Linked DNA regions of Homo sapiens: region 2 is linked to region 1. Evidence: fine-mapped expression QTL. A gene starts in region 1. The other region holds a variant in brackets. All regions are shown on one strand. Distances are between the middles of the regions. Region 1 holds the start of GALC (galactosylceramidase). Region 2 overlaps HISLA (HIF1A stabilizing long noncoding RNA).

What was found. PIP is the estimated chance that this variant, and not a neighbour inherited with it, causes the effect.
Region 2: its variant is fine-mapped to the expression of GALC in monocytes after Pam3CSK4 (Quach 2016, PIP 0.95).

Annotation. Positions count from the first base shown.
Region 1 is chr14:87,991,935-87,994,850 of GRCh38, forward strand. GALC (galactosylceramidase) reads right to left here and starts at 1,248. Exons shown (of 17, transcript NM_000153.4): 1 at 1,036-1,248. The coding sequence starts at 1,230. RefSeq lists a silencer at 916-1,105 and enhancers at 1,061-1,561, 1,256-1,585.
Region 2 is chr14:88,036,880-88,039,795 of GRCh38, forward strand. The region is part of intron 2 of HISLA (HIF1A stabilizing long noncoding RNA); the gene reads left to right. Among named protein-coding and RNA genes, the nearest start is that of LINC01147, 12 kb to the left of the region's middle. RefSeq lists an enhancer at 389-890. The variant A/AAG (reference allele first, on the strand shown) is at 1,609.

The DNA.
Region 1 (2,916 bases):
ACATAAAAAGGAGAATAGTAGTAGCAAAGAATAAATGCATTAACTCATCGGCCCACAGGTTTCCCCTGAAATACACATCAGCACGGCTGGAGAGATTGCAAATTAGGGAATGAAAACATAAAAATCAAAAAGGATCAGCTAACTCCAGGGGGAAAAAAATTTCCCCTAGCAGAAGGTTATATCTTGTGGTCACACTACAGACCAGGTCATCCTTGCAGCAGGCATTCAAGCTTGTTCTGAGTTGAATGTAAGGATGCAAGCTCCATCCAACTCAACCCCAAAAATCCGAGTTCAACCTTAACATTTTCAAGAAACATTAGCCCTAGATGTAATTTCGGATACAAAACCAAAAAACAAAAACCTTCTCACCCAAAGGTCGGCCACCATGAAGCCCATGGGCCCAGAGGGAGTACCCGGTAGTTTCAGGCCGCTCGCTTATCTTCCTTTTAAAGAGACCTTGAGGCACCAGTCCTGCCTCCAAACGAAATCCTATTCGGCGCTACCCTCTCTGGAGGAGCCCATTCTTACCCTGCACTAACAACTGCACGGGACTTAACGACTCCACCACCCACCAACTCCTCCAAAAGGGAGAGACACAGCCAAAGCATCCCACTGGGGCGTTCTCTTTCGCACACGGACGCTCCCGCACTCCCTGGCCCTTTCTGGAGCGACGCTCCCCGACTGCCATCTCCGCGATGAAGACAGCCTGTGCCCCACTGCCTGGGACGAGGGTTCCAGCCCCGGCTACTTCACTACTTAGACCTGTCACTTTACTCTCTGCACCTATACTCTCTGGACCTCCGGATCCTCATTTGTTCAAACCTAACTGCCTGTCTGGTTCGTGTTAAACGAGAAAGCACCCGCCCCAGCCCCGCAGCGGGCCCGCCCCAACCGCCTGCTGACTGGCACCCTAGGGGAATGCGGCGGAGAGTGGAGCCGGTGGAAACGCAGGGCAACGCCGCGGGGGCTTGTGGGGCTGGCCCCACGGGGCGGGCTCTTGCCGCCCCCCGCGTATCCCCGCAGCTTGCCGCTCACCCCGCCGCCGCTGACCGCGCCGATGCCGTCGAACTCCCGGCCCAGCCCGTCGGAGTCGTCGAGCACGTACGCGCCGCCGGGCGCCAGCAGCGCACACAGCAGCAAGGGCACCGCGGCGCGGCCCGCCGAACCCGCGGCCGCAGTCATAGCTTTCGCTCGGCGTTGCCAGGAAGCCGAGAGTAGCCACTCAGCCATTGTGTGGGTCACATGACTCCGGCGCCCAGGGAGGCGGGTCCCGTCGCCGCCACGATAGATACGGGCAGGAGGCCGCTGATGCTGACGCCGCCGCCGCCATTTTGAGTGCGGGTCAAGGGCCTCTGACGCAGCTGGCGGAGTGTTGAGAAAAGAAGCAGCGAGCTTTTTCTTATCGCTCGCGTGTCTGTGGTCAGCTACTGGATTTCACATGTACTTACTGCTGGCTTCTCTTCCGGCGTCACCTGGTGGAGCACTTTAACGCAGGGAAGGTGGATTCCAAGGTCCGCCAAAGGAAGAGGGCCATGAGTGGCCCTACCATGGCTCTTCCCCAGCATCTCAGGGAGTATCTACCTCGTGCGAGGACCAGGCTTGGACACCAGGTCCCGATTCCATTGTCATCTTGGTGGAATCACTTTGCTTTTGGAGCCTGAGTTTTCCCTTATGTGAGATGAGGCGAGAAGAGCAGCAGAGTGAGGGACTGAGAGAAAAGTTAATAAGCACTCAGTACATTTGAATGCATTCCACAAGTGGCAAATAGCTGAGAAGGTTCTCCAGTCTGGTAACTACCCCGGCATATTCAAAGCTTTTAGCCTTGAAGGAGTTAATAATATACCACCTCAAAATATGCTGCTGTGGCATATTGACTATTTTAAATTAAAGGCACTTAAAAACAGCAGGTGCAAGATCACTGTCATGGATATTATGTGTCTTAAAAGGAGGAGATGAAATTCCCATGTGAAAGATGTCTTCCCTATAAAATAACATTGTTATCTTCAAGGACAGAAAGTTGAAGTCGAGGGAAATCTGTCCAAACAAAATTTGTTAATCCCTATCTTTCTAGTCGCTTCTTTACCCCAAGCCCCTTCGCCTTATCATGTTTCACAACTACTATTTTTTGTCCATTTCACTCTATAAGCAATTGGCTCTTAACTGCTGCTTTAGGTCTTTTTTTTTTTTAATGAGGGCCCCCGTGCTATGTAAAATAAACATTTGTGTGGTTGTCTCCTGTCAGTCTATTAATATCTTAAATCAATTTAATACTAGGGCCATGCTGGGACCCTACAGGGACGAAGGTGAAATTTTGCCTCCCCTACAATTTTATAAACTATCTTCCACTGTCAGTTGAAGTGATTCCAGACAGGTAACTCTAAATTGGTAGGAAAGTTGTGAATTGCCCTGAATTTCTGCCACATCCAGCACTGTCCTGAGATTTCTGATTTCCTTGTTATTGAAGTAAATTAAAGAGACTCTGAAGAGCTGCAGAGAAAGATTTTCTGATCCCCAAATTTCTCTTAGCAGAAGTATGGAACTGGTTATCATTGCCTACACAAGCCCCTGAGATACCACAATGGCAAGGAAAAGACCCAGAGACTTTAGGACCTGTGGGATTTGTCTGCAGAACCCTATTTGGAATCTGATTATTTTGCCCCTTAACCACAAACCTAAATCTAAGTTTCAAGAACTCAATTATACTTGAAGGTCAAAGCTCTGGGCAATCCAATAAATATGCACATTAAGAACCCGATATCCCTGGGTTCTTAATGTACATTAGATATGTTTGTTCTTTCTTTCTTTTTGAATTGACTCTACGTCTATCCTGGTTTACTAAGGACAGTCACAACTTTTGTCTAAACATAATTACTGATAATGCTCCTTTCACCCTCAGTAGTCTTCTGGCTTGGATCA
Region 2 (2,916 bases), 45 kb after region 1:
ATTGTGACCAAAAGTCCCCCTCCAGGGTGTTAAACTCCTGGAGGATACTCATAAGCCAGGACTTCCCAAGAGTGTCCCATGGAACCTGAGTTCTAAGGACGGTACATGAAAAAAATCAACATGGGTTCCATGATCAAAGAAGTTTGGGAAATGGGCTAAATGAAAGGACTTCCAAGGCCTTTTATCTGCTAATGAGAAAGGTGATGTTTCTAGAGGCAAGAGACAGACTGCAGCTCTCTCTGCATGCTCTCATGAAATATCTCAAAGAAACAGAATTCCTTAAGGGTCCCTTTGGGAAACACTACTGCCGGTCTATGTGTGAATGACTGGAGCCACATAGAATGTTTTGCAAGAAATAACCAGGACACACAAATGTATAAGAATACATACCGATGCATTTTAAATTTGCCCACTTTTTCGATCAAAAACAAACAAGCGTAAGTTGTTTTCCCTTTCCATGTCCATTTCTAGAACAAGCCCTGTGAAAAACAAGCTGCTGTCCCTGCTAGAGGCATCCTGCAATCCATGGATGTTTATCACCAAGCCATTGTTAACATGAGGTAATGGCTATGCAGAATTTGTTTCACTCACCCCTTGGAACTCAGATTCCCTGTGGAGAGTTGGAGTAATATATATGAGGACAATAGGGAGCCTGAAAGTTAAGAATTCATCCTGTTGTATTTCTCCAATGGCACATTCACGATGTGGCTCCATGGTTTAATGCAGACTGAAAAGCAGTTGGCATTTCACAGCAGGAGGTTAGACATGGAGTGTGCTACTGGGTCAGGGTAGCTTGACTGGATATAAGTGTGTGTGATGGATGCTGTAATGAGGTGGGAGGCAGGTGACCTGAATTTTAGTCCCAAAGATACCACACTAAACTCTTGCTATGTGACCTTAGCCAAATTCTTAGTTTTCTTATCTGTAAAATGAGGTTTAGATGGTCCTGAAACCACCCACTCATGCTCCTCCTCCTCCTCATCTTTCCTGGCTGACTGGGATGATGACCATGAGGCAATGTTGGCAGCCAGGAGTAGAAAATGGCAGACTCACTAGAACATCTGAATCCCTGAAAAACAGTATCGCTGTTGCTGCTGATTAAACCTCCCCCTTGAGAAAGGAAAACATTTTTTGTAAGCTACTGGATGTTTTGGGTCCCTGTGTTTGCCATCTTCCTTATTTCATATGAGAACTAGTACCGAAAAGTAAGCACTATAACAAACATCTAAAATGGAAGGTATTAGCTTAGCATTCAGACTGAAGGCAGGAATAAAATGGTTATGAGTGGCTAGAAAGTGAAAGCCTCATGTTATCCATGGATAACTTTAAAAATTATCATCTGTGATTATTTGGAAGGTAGACCAAGAACGTATTGAGTCTGTGGCTTTAGGGAAAGCAGGTGAAAAGAGTAGGAATATTAGTGTATGTCAACTGCTATTTGTTGTTTTTAATCAAGTGCTACAAGAAACAGATAAACTCAAGCAAGAATTGGTTAGTTTGCCAGCCAAAGTGGAACTGGAAAAAAAAATACAAAGCTTCTTGGGGCTGAAAAAACTCTTGGGTTCTATACCTCAAATACGAAAAGATAAGATTTGCAGATCAAAAAAA[A/AAG]AGAGAGAGAGAGAGAGAGAGAGAGATCCAGCCAAGTGGCAAAGATAATATCAATAAAGTTGCTTTGCCACCCAGGCTATTTTAGACTTCAATGTGGATTCCATGATGGCGGAATAGATGGTATGCTCCAGGAAGACAAACCTTAGATCAGGTCTAGAAAAGAATTTGGGGGTTATTTACGAGCACATGAAACTGACTGGAAACAAATAGGTCAGATACCTATCGAGTTTTTGAGAAAACCGTAATGCCCAGGAAACCACAAGCTTGAATCTGTAAAATTACCCTCATGTAACAGCAGAAAGTGGGCTCTGGGAGATGTGCAACTCCTAGTAACATACTCCTCAATATTCACCGTATAAGGGTCCATGGAGGCTAACGGACAAAAATATTCTCCAGGAGGTCAGAGCCAAGAGACAGAGGAAAATGAGGAAGAAAGTTCCTTGCAGAGGACAGACCCAGGGTCTATCAAAACATTTTCTTCTAGGGTTTGGGGATCTTTGCAATACCTACCCTACAGGATTCCATTATTGCTCTGGACCAGGGAATTCTTTAGGCATTTTTAGTGTGGTTAGCCAGTCCACTTTTGTGTATTGAATAGGCAGATGGAGCAAAGATAACTGGTCTTTTAGTTCAAAGGATGCTGAACTTCAAGGAACTGTATCTGGACTTTCAGAAGAGGCCAGAGCATCATTTGGAGATCCTCGACTTTGATATCAACAAGTAGACAATTCAATAAGTGGACAAAATTTTGGGTTTTCTCCCCAGAGTAATATGCACGTATGTTTTATGTAAAGGATGATAGCAGCAAAAGGGGCTAACTGTGATAGAGGTTGCTAGCTACCTACTAAAAATCCATTCTCCCCTTCTTACTGGCACAGAGCTAAACTGCATTACTCAGCCTCCCTCGCAGTGAAGTGGCCAAGTTTTCTTCAGTGAAACATGATTGCAGTGACACATGTCACCTCTACGTTTGGCCCATACAAACCTCACACTTATCCCAATATGTTCTTTCTTTCTACTGGTTGATTGGTGTGGCAAAGCTTTGTATAACTTCTAGATGCCACATATTGAGGATGGCAGAGCTATCCCCAAATGGCTCTATAGGGACCACTAAGTGACTGTGGAGGAGAGCTGACATCAATCCAAATCCTATTATAAAAACTTTTTGTTTTTAAGCCACTGGAATTTGGGTTTTATTTCAACTGCAGTTCAGAATACTCTAACACATCACTGTAAAAGTAACAATGTCTATTTATGCAGAATATGCCAACTTTTCCAAGGAAGTCCACAGTTGATCTATTGAATCTA